4 linked regions of the Homo sapiens genome follow. The protein of the gene in region 3 interacts with the protein of the main gene of each other region in a pairwise test. Each region holds a gene or a part of one and is shown on either strand. Other genes may lie near its edges.

Evidence for each region.
Region 1: the proteins of RETREG3 (region 3) and TMEM222 interact in binary tests that used the Homo sapiens proteins (3 or more experiments, as listed by UniProt).
Region 2: the proteins of RETREG3 (region 3) and TPRG1 interact in binary tests that used the Homo sapiens proteins (3 or more experiments, as listed by UniProt).
Region 4: the proteins of RETREG3 (region 3) and SERP2 interact in binary tests that used the Homo sapiens proteins (3 or more experiments, as listed by UniProt).

The regions. Positions count from the first base shown.
Region 1 is NC_000001.11:27,328,663-27,332,162, reverse strand, and holds part of TMEM222 (transmembrane protein 222), read right to left. Parts: intron 1,449-3,500; exon of another isoform or gene 1,444-1,448; coding exon 1,359-1,443; intron 1,179-1,358; exon of another isoform or gene 1,026-1,178; intron 923-1,025; exon of another isoform or gene 94-922; coding exon 62-93; intron 1-61.
Region 2 is NC_000003.12:189,318,471-189,321,970, reverse strand, and holds part of TPRG1 (tumor protein p63-regulated gene 1 protein), read right to left. Parts: intron 1,346-3,500; coding exon 1,151-1,345; 3' UTR 1-1,150.
Region 3 is NC_000017.11:42,602,875-42,606,374, forward strand, and holds part of RETREG3 (reticulophagy regulator 3), read right to left. Parts: intron 1-3,500. UniProt on the Homo sapiens protein: Endoplasmic reticulum (ER)-anchored autophagy regulator which exists in an inactive state under basal conditions but is activated following cellular stress.
Region 4 is NC_000013.11:44,394,324-44,397,823, forward strand, and holds the end of SERP2 (stress-associated endoplasmic reticulum protein 2), read left to right. Parts: intron 1-2,948; coding exon 2,949-2,989; 3' UTR 2,990-3,391; downstream 3,392-3,500. UniProt on the Homo sapiens protein: Interacts with target proteins during their translocation into the lumen of the endoplasmic reticulum. Protects unfolded target proteins against degradation during ER stress. May facilitate glycosylation of target proteins after termination of ER stress.

The DNA.
Region 1 (3,500 bases), on a different chromosome or scaffold from region 3:
GGCCCGCCCCGGCAGGAGCGACCTGCCTCTAGAGCCAGTCACATGGGTGTTCATCACTTACTTGGCAGGCTTTCCAAAGGCCATGTTGTCCTCCTGTTGAGGGACAAAAGCAGAGGTCAGTGAGGAACTTACATTTGGGCCAGATGACAAACCTGGGTAGGTGGCAGAAGTGCAGTGACTTAGAAGAGGGTATGTCAGGGGTGGGGGGGCCAGAAGTGGGGCCTGGGCCCTGCCCTGGGGCTGGCATGGCATCTAAAGAGCTAGCAGCTGTTCTGCAGGAAGAAGGCAGTGTGGCACAAGTGCACAGAGCACTGCATCAGAGACCAAAGATCTGGGGCTCCAGCTGCCACTGTCCCTTGGTGTGGCACCCAGGAATTCTCTTGCCCTCTCTGGGCCTCATTTTCTCCAAGTTCTCTGGTCAGTCTTCTCTGATCTCTGAGGACCAGCAGGAGGTTTCCATCATGGTCTGGCCTCCTGACTCAACAGTGGTGGCCCACATGGAGACCATCTCCTCGCCCAGCAGTCTGACTGCATTCATAGCAGGGCGGGGGCGCTGGGCCCAGAGGGACTTCCTGTGAGGGAGACACTGCAGTGAAGTCCTAGACTCATCACATTATTCCTGGGGTACAGGACTTACACAGAGACAGACTCTGGGTTCAGATCAGGGAGACCCTGCTGACAGACCTGGTCAATGATTAATCACCATAAAAATATATGATAAAGTAATGGATGTGAAAGTATTTTTAAGTACAAAGTGACAGACCTTTGTCGTGTTAAGATGATCATGACAACTATTAATATAAACAGGTTGGTGCCACCACACCCCTTCAGTCCAGCCTCTGACACCTGGAGACAGGATGATGCATGCTCCTCTGCTGCTAGCCCACTGGACCAGTCTTGGTCACAGCCCCAGGGAACAGACCTGAGAACACAGCTGCTTCATTCTAAAGCCCCACCCCCTCTTCTCCATGGCCACACCCAGGGAACCGAATCAGCCTCCCGTGTCCCCCCACCTTGACTCCCACCTTCTGAAGGTCCAGAGATGTGGTTCCTGGATGGTCTGACTCTCCACTCTTGCCTCTAATCCCTACCCATGTCTCGGTACCCCAGGGGTGGGGGCAAAGGGCTGGGTCAGTTACTTAAGAATCCTTCTGGCCACACTGCCCTCCCGGCCTGTCCTGGAGGCAAGAGAAGGGGGAAAGGGGTCAAACACTGGTGAGGGGCAGAGGGCCAGGGCCAGGACTGCGGGTTATCTACGTTCTCCTGGGTCTGGGGAGACGAAGCCTGCCTGCAGGCAAGACAGGACAGCCTTCCACTTAAACCTTGGAACCCCCCGGGTGGGCAGAATGGGGACTCACTGAGACAAAGTAGGGGCCCGCGAAGTCCCGAATGACTCCTGTGGATGTGCAGATGCCCATGTGGCCGATGATGGGGAAAAACCACCTGTGAGGAAAAGGACGGGGAAGGGACAGAGCTTAGGGGATCTTTCAGCCAGTTAGACGGACGCTGGGGACCCTTCATACAGTACAGAAGCATGTGAATATTACGTTTCATTGACAGGTGGCCATTAGGGTGGTCCAGAAGGCTGGGGAAGCACAGACAAGGGTAACTGCAAACCGACAGCACAATGGGATACCTCAGCATCCCGCCAGGATGGCTGTAACTCAAACGACAGCAACACCAATGCAGGTGAGGGCAAGGGACAACCAGAGCTCTCATTCACTGCTGGTGGGAGGGATAAACTGTTTCTACCTTTTTTTTTTTTTCAAATGGAGTCTCGCTCTGTCGCCCAGGCTGGAGTGCAGTGGCACAATATTGGCTCACTGCAACCTCCGCCTCCCGAGTTCAAGCAATTCTCCTGCCTCAGCCTCCTGAGTAGCTGGGACTACAGGTGTGCACCACCACGCCTGGGTAATTTTTGTATTTTTAGTAGAGATGGGGTTTCACCATGTTGGCCAGGATGGTCTCGATCTCTTGACCTCGTGATCCACGTGCCTTGGCCTCCCAAAGTGCTGGGATTACAGGCATAAGCCACTGCACCCGGCCTACCATTTTGTTTTTGAGATGGAGTCTCGCTCTCTTGCCCTGGCTGAAGTGCGGTGGCACAATCTCAGCTCACTGCAACCTCCGCCTCCTGGGTTTAAGCAATTCTCCTGCCTCAGCCTCCCGAGTAGCTGGGACTACAGGAGTGCACCACCATGCCTGGCTAATTTTTGTATTTTTAGTAGACATGAGGTTTCATCACGTTGGCCAGGCTGGTCTCGAACTCCTGACCTCAAGTCATCTGCCTGCCTCGGCCTCCCAAAGTGCTGGAATTACAGGCGTGAGCCACCGTACCCGGCCTGTTTCTACCATTCTGGAAAACAGTTTGGCACTATACTAAATGCCTCAGCAGTTTCACTTTTGGAACCTTCTTTGCCCTCACCCCTGGGAAATAACATTTGCCAAAACTCATTGAACTGTACTCTTAAAATGTGTACATTTTATTATATGTAAACTATAATTCAATAAAATTGATAAAAACAACTAGAAAGAATCCAAATGTTCAACAACAGTACGATGAATAAGTGTGGTATAGTTATACATTGAAATAGTCCATAACAATGAAAAACAGTGTCACTTCTGCTACACACAACACAGGCTTTCACAGACATAAGGGTGAATGAAGGAAATCTTACACAGAGTACGTAACATAGCACTCTGTTTACGTGAAGTCCAAGAAAAGGCAAGACTGATCTATGGCTAGAGGTCCACAGCGGGGTGGAATCTGTGGTAGAACTGACTGGGAGGGCACAAGGGGGTCCTCTGGGTCTTAGCATTGCTTTCTAGCCCCCGTCTGGGTGGCGGTTACATGAGTGTGTGATATGCAAAAATTCTTCCTGCTGTATACTTGAGATTCGCACACCGTTTGGTACATAAGTTATACCTCAATAAGAAAGTTAAAAAAAAAAAAAAAGGTGGGCGGTCATGACACCAGTATGGGTGGGGGAGTTCAGGAAAGGCTTCCCTGAGGAAATAACAAAGAAACAGAATGTGCAAGGGTAGAAATTGGAACAGAAGCATGGTGTATGCCAGGAAATAAAAGTTCCTTTTTTATAAACCATGGGCATTAAAAAACAACAATAAATCTCAGATGCACCCCAATATGTCACACATAGGAACCCCAGACCTGTCTGTGTTCTGAGAACCATGGCCCTACAGGACCTGGGTGCTGGAGAGACTGATCCAGTTTAAGGAGAACTCACAGGGCCAGTGGCCGAGTCCTGGCCTCAATGCTGCCTGGGCACGAGCATAAAGCACCTGGCTAGGGGTGCAGGCCAAGCCTCCAGAGACGCAGTTTAAAAAAGCAGTTACAGGGGGCTGGGGTGGAGCCAGTAAAGACTTCACAGAGGAGGTGACTTTTAACCTTGACCTGTGAAAGGACACAACATCAACAGGCAGAAAACAACACTGCAGAGCAAGAAAGTGGTACATGTGCCTGGAAGAACGAAAGGGGGAGA
Region 2 (3,500 bases), on a different chromosome or scaffold from region 3:
AAGAGGAAATAAGAGGGAAAAGAGCAATGACAATAGAGTGTTAAGACAGTGTTTTTGAAAACATGGTCTTCAAAACCCTCTGCGATCCATGGACATTCCATATGCAGCACCTCTGAGGCCTAGAAAGAAAGATGCCTGTGGCATTCTCATCTTCACTCCAACCGCATTGAACCTACTTTTATCTGCTTCGTATATGCTGCTTCTACAAAAGATTTCTTTAGAAGAAAAAGGTCTGTTATTAAAAAATATATATTTGAACAAAAGATGGTATAAGTAAATGAGCTAGAAACCAAGTGTAGGATAGATTGAAACAGTCAGCCTTGGAGTAGGGATTCCATTTAACAGGCTGTGGTAATAATTGGTTGAGCAGAATTAAAAACCTGATCTAATAATACAGCTATAAGAATGGAAAGGAGGAATACATGAACAATTTTGATAAGAGAATGAGCTTCAAGTTTGACATCTGGGCATCGGAATACAATGCTAAGCCGTATAGAGATGTGATCATATATAGGATGTCATGGCAAGGAATTTAGAGAAATCAAAATTGACAGACTTCAGGGATGGATAACTGGGACCATATAAATACCACAGGATTTTGATAATGCTCAATTAAGAGGCCACTGGGACACTGATATATAGATGATTAGCAGTCAGAAATGCAAAACTGAGTCTTGGAATAAATATTGGGAATGGGAATATAAATTTGGAAGTCATCCTTATCAAGTGGTAGCTAAAATACTAGAGACAGTGAGACCCCAATGAGAGAATAAATCAGGATAAGAGGGCTGAAGACCAAGACCTAAAAAAAAAAAAAAAAAAAAGCCTACATTTAGAGAGCTGAAGCAACAGGACTTAGAGTCTTCTTTCCTGAGTTGATGATCAGGCACTCATTTGATAACAGTATTTGATAGGCTCAGCAGCATTTATTTTCTAGTTTTAAGAAAATTTGATTATTCTTGTATGAGGTCTAAAGTGTGTATCTATCAGTCCAATCAAGCTTTTAAATTTTCGGAAATACTAAATTTCTAAATCATAAAGCGTCATTTAAAAATAATTAATTGTTTCAGTCCAAAAATAGCGTGGGTCAAACTGGAATTTTCAAAGTGACATATCTGTGGATGATATGCTTATGGTACCAAAAAGACTCTCAAAAACCAATACTCCCACGGGCAAGGGAATAGCCAAGTTTGTTGCGGTTTCCAATGAATGACATCAGCCCTGTGTAGGTCTCAATCAAAATGGGTTCAGTTAACACCATCAGTTTCTTTCCTCTTCCAGATCCAGTTGAATTCTTGTGGGCATTCTGGATAGCTGGAACAAGCTTAGACATGAACCCAGACAACTGAAGAAGAAAAAAAGAAGGCACAAAGTTAGTTACTGTAGATTAAGTTGAGAGATACTCATCTCCCCAGCCAGTCTTCACAGAAGTTGACTACTCTCCTGGGGCTGCAGTTATTCTTACTTCTTAAACATAAATGGTTAAATTTATCTCTATTAAGTTAATTCAGTTAATAACTGTGCTTAAGTCCATTAAGACTAACTTTCCTCAGGCCCAATTTTGCTTCTTAATGTCAGAAATAATATGTAATTTTTTCAGTTTGTTTATCATCCACATAAGTCTACCAAGTACCATTTTAGTTTTAGCTGCTTTAATATTTTGTTAGTATACAAATAATTTGCATCGGTATTAGTACTGTAAACTGACTCTCTTTGTCACTAATAGATGAAAGGGCATCTGAAATTACTTAAGAAATATTGATGAAGCGCCTACAACAAGTTCCAGGGACATTTTAAGTTGAACAGACAGGCAAAAAAACCCCGCTGTCATGGAGCTCACATTCTCGTGATTGCAGACAAAAAATATTCATAAAAATTTTGAAGGTGATAAATTCTAGAAGGAAAATAGAATGTGGTAAAGGGATAAAAAGTAATGAAAGTTAGAGTTACTTCACATACTGTATTCAGGGCAAGTCTTTCTGAGGAGGTAAAACTTCAACTGAGACCCATACAATGAAAAAGAGCTAGTTACGTGAAGAAGAAATTCCAAGCAGAAAACACAGCACCTGCAAAAGCTGTAAGGGAGGCATGAATTTAGCTTCTTCAAGGGACACAGAAAACGCCTTTTAGACAGAAGTCTAGTGATCAAAGGAAAGAGGTTGAAGCACTAGGCATGAAGAGTCTTCAGGGCCATATTAAGGGCTTTGGATTGATGTGATTTTAGGAAGGAGTTCAATGTTGTATGCTGTTATTTTACAAATAATAATAATCCTAGCTACTGTGTGGAGTCAAAAATAGAATGCTCTTAGGGCTAAGAATGGAAGCAGGAAGACAAGATGAGTTTGGAGTTCACTTCAGGAGTCCAGGCAAGATACGACGGTGGCTTGGACAGTGTAGCAGTAGAGACCATCGGAACTGGTTAAATTAGGGATTTGGGGGGCAGGGGGTTCAAGCCAAAGAATGTGTTGGTGTGATTGAATTTAGGGATGAAGAAATGAGAAGGAAAAAAATGACACCCAGGTTTTTGGCCTGAGCAACTGGGTAGATAGCGATATTATTATTGAGTTGAGAAAGCCTAGGAGAGGTACAGATTGGAAATGGTAAGATACAGGGATGGAGGATTTTGTTGCAGACACGTGGTTTGAGTTACCTCACCAGAAATCCTCTTAGAGATTTTCAATAGGCAACTGGATATAGAATCTGGGACCATGAAGAAATATACAGATAAAAAGTCCATGTCTATAAATTTTTCATAATAATAATCACAGACCCAGAAGTCAAGAATGATATTCATAAAGTGAAGTTAATAGCCTAAACATGATAGGATATGGGACAGAGAGTAGGAATTAAATTCAGGAAACTCTTGTTGGATAAGATACTAGGCATTGTGGGCAATGTAGAGGGGATCTGGTAGGTAAACTGAGGATCTAAATGTTACAGGGATCTACCCAATACCAAATAACTAGTAAATGATTGAGCAAGGGCTTGGACTCAGGTCTCCTGACTTAACTCCTGAAGTCCTCTCTTTATAACATTGCTGTTATGAGCAGGAATTATAAAATTCTAATTTTTAGAAAATTTAGTTTTAAAATTCTGATATTTAGGGAAGAATTCATGTTCCTCATTTGCAAAAGGGAGAAAATATTACATTCATTAATTTTTAAACCATGTTCTTTAGAACACTAGATCTCTTCACAGATTGGGTGGGTACATATAATTTATCATCCAAATCTAAATTCTCTGGAAAAGAAAGGAAGTGCTATGTGAATAATGTTGGGACAGCAGGTACCTGAGGCTTCGAGGAGAGGATGTCAACAAAAAGCCAAAAGCCAAGCAGGTAACTTATTTTAGTCTCTTCAATCACATCAGAGCTGCTCTATTTTTATGATCAGTTTTATATATTTGAGTTCCAAGTAAGATTTTACTTCTTTTTAAATGAAAATCACTTGCCTAGGAAACTTCAGCTCTGGCAATCAATGATTTAATCCAAAAAGATCTAT
Region 3 (3,500 bases):
TGAGGTTGCAATAAGCCATGATCACACCACTGCTCTCGAGCCTGGGCGACAGTGAGATCCTGTCCCCCGCCAAAAAAAAAACTTAAGATAGAAATTAGTAAATAATTTCCATTTACATATATTTGAATTCTTTTCTTATTTGTGAGAGTGAAATTTTATATATCCATTGATTTTTTTTTCCCCTTTTGTGAACTGTCCCTCCACTCTGTCAGGGACTAAAATCCAATTAAATGATCAGTCTAAATAAAATATCCCTGGAATAGCAATTGGTGTCCAGAAACATCGTGAGAAATTCCAGAACCAAACATAAACTTTTGTGATTAACTATACCATGGAGCCTCACTATTAGTACCAGTAAATTAAAGTTTGCTATAATCATAAATAATGACCACATGTCTATTTTCAAAGACATGATTTCTAGGTTCCTTTGTTATTACAGATTAAGATTGTCTCAAGGGCACTTCAAAACAAAGCATCCCATTCTACAGGGACAGAAAGCCTGTTACTGTACAGCACTTGTGACCGCCTGGTTAATGAGCCCAAGTCACCGGTAAATTCAAAGGAAAAATTAACCCAACCTATATCATGCAGTGACAGTTGTTGCTTGCAAAAAAACCAGAAATGAAATCAGCTAGCTGCTAACAGTGGAGAGAAAGCACTCAACCATACAATTAGGGCAGATAAAAACTAAAGGTAAAGAGAGGGGAAGTAAATAAACCAAGGCATCCTTGGGAGTCTTCTCGGCTCACAAAGACAAGAACCCTGCAAAGACTATCATCAGGAACATTCACTCAACAGATTTCATTAGAAATCTGATGTGTAGCCGGGCGCGGTGGCTCACGCCTGTAATCCCAGCACTTTGGGAGACCGAGGCGGGCGGATCACGAGGTCAGGAGATTGAGACCATCCTGGCTAAAACGGTGAAACCCGGTCTCTACTAAAAATACAAAAAATTAGGTGGGCATGGTGGCGGGCGCCTGTAGTCCCAGCTACTCGGGAGGCTGAGGCAGGAGACTGGCGTGAACCCGGGAGGTGGAGCTTGCAGTGAGCCGAGATCGCGCCACTGTACTCCAGCCTGGGCGACAGAGCGAGACTCCGTCTCAAAAAAAAAAAAAAGAAAAGAAATCAGATGTGTAGATTTTTTTTAACAGAACAAATATCTCTACTTAAATGGGCTCCCCATCTTCCATTTCTTGTTTCTATTATTTTTTACTCAAATCCTAACCTTCTAACTCAGAATTGCTGTATATCCTTAATCACTTTTTTGGGTCATTTTTATTTATTTATTTTTTTGGGGGGGCGGACAAAAATAAAATTTTTACATTTCATTTGTGAAATAACAAATTCTATAATAACCTCCTAGAAATACAGTATGGTTCACTGAGACTAGTGACTGCAAAAAGCAGATCCCAACAGAGATCTCTACTTGGGACTCAGCTTGTGGACTGCTCCAAAACAATATTCCTAATTCATAGACTATGTAGATTCACAGATTGTTAAAAACCACAAAGCAGTCAAGGTGCAGTGGGTCATGCCTGTAATCCTAGCACTTTAGGAGACCAAGCCGGGAGGGCTGTTAGAGATGAGGAGTTTGAGACCAGCCTGGGCAACATATTGAGATTCTGTCTCTACAAAAGTTTTGCAAATAGGCTGGGCCCAGTGGCATGTGCCTCTAGTCCCAGCTACTTGGAAGACTGAGGCAAGAGGACTGCTGGAGCCCAGGAGGTAGAGGCTGCAGTGAGCTATGATTGTGCCACTGCACTCCAGCCTGGGCAACAGAGGGAGACCCTGTCCAGCCCAACAACCCCCGATTCCCCAGCAAAAAAAAAAAAAAAAAAAAAAAACTGAAAGAGCTCAGCAGTTATGTAGGCCTCCTTGAACTATCTCTTCATGTTAGGTGGGAGAGGGAGCTTGGAGTTCACACATTTCCAGTGTTCATTTACCCTCCTCTGATCTCAGAGTACAAGTCAAACCAAAAAGTTACCCAAACCTGTTCTTTTCTGATCCTGTCAGGATACATGCTTGTTGACTCTCACATTCTTCCCCCAAATCACTCATTCACAGATGAGGTTGAGACTAATGAAAACACAAGCTATTGGAAGGAACGGCCTGACATTTCTATTATTATGCTAGAGACAATAACAGATCAGTGACCAGAAGTAATCTAGGCTGGAAGACCTCTGATATGGCCACCATAAATTCTCTGGTACCTGAAAAAAAAAAAAGTATGAAAACCTTGGAATACTATGGTGACAAGGTATCTACATCTATCTCCATCTTTTTTTTTTTTTTTTAAGATGTAAGAGGGCATATTCACAGTTACGGCAAAATATGACTGAGGATACAAAACACTGAAAATTAAGAGCTACCTACCTGAATTCTGATGGGTTTTTTTTTGTACTCCTATCTCCTAATACCTCAAAATGCATAAAAATCTCAGTTAATGATATGTCATTTTTGTCCCATTATTCAATACAATAAAAGAGAAACTAAATATTTCAGATTTGATTTTTCTGACTTGAGCTAATGATCCTCCTCCCTTTCTTAAACATTTAAAATGTTTGTTAACTGAACAGTCAGTCACTCTTCCACATTTCTAAGCGAAATGTCAACACTCATACTCAATATGACACTACTAGAATGTGAAGCCCAAATTTCATTTTAAATCTCTAATTACCTACCAAGGAAGCTCATTTCCCCAAACAATTCTGTGAACTCCAATGCCAGACTATCCAAGTTTCTGGGGACTTAACAGTATCTGTGCCTTTCACATGTAGGAGTCCTCTCCAGAAATGGCATACCCAACTGTTCTTTTAGTCTCAAGAGTCACATTGTCGGCCAGGGACAGTGGCTCACACCTGTAATCCCAGCACTTTGGGAGACCGAGGTGGGTGGATCACCTGAGGTCAGGAGTTCAAGACCAGCCTGGCCAACATGGTGAAACTCTGCCCTACAAAAATACAAAAATTAGCCAGACGTGATGGTGGGTGCCTGTAATCCCAGCTACTCGGGAGGCTGGGGTGGGAGAATCGCTTGAACTTAGGAGGTGGAAGTTGCAGTGAGCCAAGATCACGCCATTGCACCCCAGCCTGGGTGACAGAGCGAGACTCCATCTCAAAAAAAAAAAAAAAAAAAAAAAGTCACATCCTCATTTTGTTGTCTCTCTCCTGCACCTTCTTAAAATGTGATGGGACTGTAACAAGAGTAACTGTGTTCTGGATACACAACAGACAAGCTACTAGGAAATGCCAAAGATAAAGACCAATCACAGCAATGCTTTAAGAGACCCAGAGTACAAAAGGGGTTCTAAGTGAGCCTCTAAACATAGCATGTTAATAAGCTTAAGTAAACACTGGTAGAGGCCAGCAAATTAAAGCTAGCTGTAACATCTAAAGATATGTCCCAGTCACAGCAGCTCTTTATGTGCAGACCTCAACCTCACATTCTGCTTCAGAAACCTCTCTCAGACAAGCGGCAGAAGAAAGGTCCCCTCCTCGCAG
Region 4 (3,500 bases), on a different chromosome or scaffold from region 3:
CATGTTGGCCAGGATGGTCTCAATCTCTTGACCTCATGATCTGCCCACCTTGGCCTCCCAAAGTGCTGAGATTACAGGCATGAGCCACCGCACCTGGACTGTCTTAGATTCTTTAAAGAGATTTGTAACAGTTCCTTCAAAAAGAATTGCATGGTTTCTTATTATTACCTCGAACTTTTGAAGTTATGAATTAACTTAATATGGGGGCTACATGGACTAAGACACAGATGGTTTCCTATTTGTTGACTTACATCCTGCTGATAAGTTTTTGTCTAAGGGCAAGAGTAAGCGAGAAGTAATATTTTTGAGCATCTACTTATGTCATCGTATTTATTCCTTGCCATCCTTTGAGGTACCTATTATCCACAGTTTTATAGGTAGAGAAAGCAGGGCTCAGAACTGTGTAGTAATTTCCCAAAGTTCACAGCTTTGTAGGCTGGCAGATAGTGCTAAGCACTGGTCTGCATGCTGGGACAGGGAGAAGCAGCAGTTGTTGTAGTCATAGTAACAGTGATGATAGCAGTAGCTACCAGGCAGTGAGTCCTCCATGTGTGAGGACCCTTCCTATATGTCATATGGTTTAATCCCTGTGACAGCCCTGCAAAGGCCATGATCCTCATTTTACAGAACAGGAAGCAGCCTCTAAGAGATTAATTATTTGTCCAGTCACACAGCTTTTCAGCAAAGAGCTGATATTCAACCCAATTCCATCTGATCCTAACTTTCTGCTCTAAAGTCAACTTGTTCGTCAGGATTAGCGATAGTTCCCTGATCACAAGAACAAAGTCTGAGGCATGGTAGAAGTAATCTTTTTTTTCCTAATGTTGAATATACAGCTGCCTCCTGACATTCCTATTGAGCCAGAATACAGAATGTTTATTTAATTTTTACTCCTTGTGAGCCTTGGTGGGGAGGAAAGAAACATCAGATATTTCTGCAAGCTTATAAATTGTTGTAGGGTACTTTCTCTTCCAACTGCTCCTGTTAAGACCCACCCAAGGCCGGGCACGGTGGCTCACGCCTATAATCCCAGGACTTTGGGAGGCTGAGGTGGGTGGATCACGAGGTCAGGAGATCGAGACCATTCTGGCTAACACGGTGAAATCCCGTCTCTACTAAAAATACAAAAAATTAGCCGGGCATGGTAGCGGGCACCTGTAGTCCCAGCTACTCGGGAGCCTGAGGCAGGAGAATGGCGTGAACCGGGGAGGCGGAGCTTGCAGTGAGCCGAGATCGCACCACTGCACTCCAACCTGGGCGACAGAGGAAGACTCCGTCTCAAAAAAAAAAAAAAAAAAAAAGACCCACCCAAGAACCCAAACTTAGCTAAGAAAATATCTGAGCACATCCAGAATTAAATATCACAAGTTGTTGGACCAACACCTTCACCATATCTACAGATGAGTCCCTGACACTCACATGGAGCTGATTGACTCTGATTTGACTCGTAATTCTAACAGTTTCTGTTTTCAGCTTAGTCTACGGCAACAAAATAATAGTACAGGACCCACTGCAGATTGGTGTAGTAATACAAGAGATGTGACCAGAGATGAGAAGAAAGAGACCCAAAAAATGATCAGAAGCAGAAATGGGAGCCCAGAAGTGCAGCTGACCAGAAGCATTTCAGTGTCAGATCACACGCAGCCTCCTCTGTAATGAGATCACAGCACGTCTCATCAGTTACTGGTTTTCATTATGGTGACACTGAACACTCATGAAAAGTTAGCATTGAAATATGTTGGTATCTCCAATTTAGAAAGGTAGTGATGATGGGTACAGTGTTTTTACGGGGAAAAAAAGCCAAAAAATGCATTCATGTTTGTCTACTCTTAAAACCCAGCTGTCCAAGAACGATTCCCCAAGGCCCTGTCCATCATTTCTCTTTCTATCCTTGAAGCGCAGTGTCTGACACATAGGATGTGCTCATTGATGCCAGATGATGAAACTTGAATGGCTGGTTTCCTAGGGTTCTGGATAACTCTGTTTTACCGTGGATCCTGGATGTATTCCAGGATGACTTTAAGAAGGCGAGAAGGGGTAAGACCCCTGAGAGCTCAGTGTTTATTCTGTTTTTACACATGGTTAGATGAGATGATACCCACCCTCCTTCAAAAAAAAAAAAAAAAAGCCATTCAATACATGGTAGTTACTCTTATCATTACCATCATCTTTGTCAACACTGACCACGGTTGCTCACTGGGGAAGATGTGAAAAAGAAGTTGGGATCTTCCGCTCCTGGGACACATTTGAAACCCAATAGCTGGAAGCAGGCTGAAGCTATGTAACCAGCTCTCATCCACATGGGCAAGGGTCCCAGGAGTTCTCTGTGGGCTTACAAGCTACCCACCCCCTTGACAACTCCAGTTATTAAAGGTTGAGCCCTGAATAAATAAGTGCCGCTCTCCATAAGAGACAGCCGCCTTTCAGAGAGTTCCAAGCAGCTGGAAGATACTCACGCATGGAGGGTTCTAGGCAGACAGAGGCCGGGCCCCGTGGGCTGCTCCGAGCACCTGGTCGGCCTTCCCAGCACAGGGCTCATTGTTTTACAGGTCACAGCCATTTTGAAAAGGCAGACTCACTGACCTGTTTAATGAGTGCAGTTTCTGCACGAAAGCCCATATCCCTCTCCCAGGCAGCCCCAGAACTTTGCTGGGGAAGGGGGCCAAATCTCTTCTCAGTGCCTGAGGGATTTCTGGCCTTAACTGCTGGTGGAATTAGCAGGAGTTATCTATAAATCCCTGAGGCATCCATCAGCCGACTGAGCGAGGCTGCCTTTTTAAAGAAGTTCACTGACCTCTTGTTAACTTAACTCCTTGTTAGGAAATATCTAATCAGCTGTGAGCTAACACGTCAGGGCCCAGGGGTCTGCAGAAGCCGGGCTCACTGTGGGCTGGGTTTCCAGCTGTGTGCAGTCTGGTGTCTGAGCTGTGGTGTTTTCCTCTTTTCAGCTATCTTTCAGATCATTCAGAGCATAAGGATGGGCATGTGAGAAAGCCAGGGATTTGACACCACCTCCCTCCCACTGGAGGCGGGAGGACAACGGAAGCGGTCAGCCAGTTTCTGCGGGAAACAAGCAGGCCACACGGAATAGAAAAAAACGCTCCCCCACTTGTTCCCTGATCACTTCATCGTGGATGTCAGACCAAATTGCCTTCTCACAGGACATCTTGGTGCATCCGCGTTCTCAAGCGGAAAGGACATTTTGCTTTTCTGTTGGCAGGATTAGTAGCCACGCGGGTCGTCCGCAGCAGTGCTGTTTTTTTGGTTTTTCCCTTGGTTTCACTAATGCGTGCATGTGGCCCTCTGAACGATCACTGGTTTACTTTCTATGGATACAATCTCTCCTCCATTGAGAATTGATTTTACAAATAAATGTCTTCGTTCAACCTTATACCATGTGTGGGTTACAGTGAGAAAACTAAAGTGAAGAAAACAGCAGAATAGCTCAAGGAAAGTTGGGAGGTGGGGAGATTTGGTTATGCAGTTGGAGGAGGCGCAGG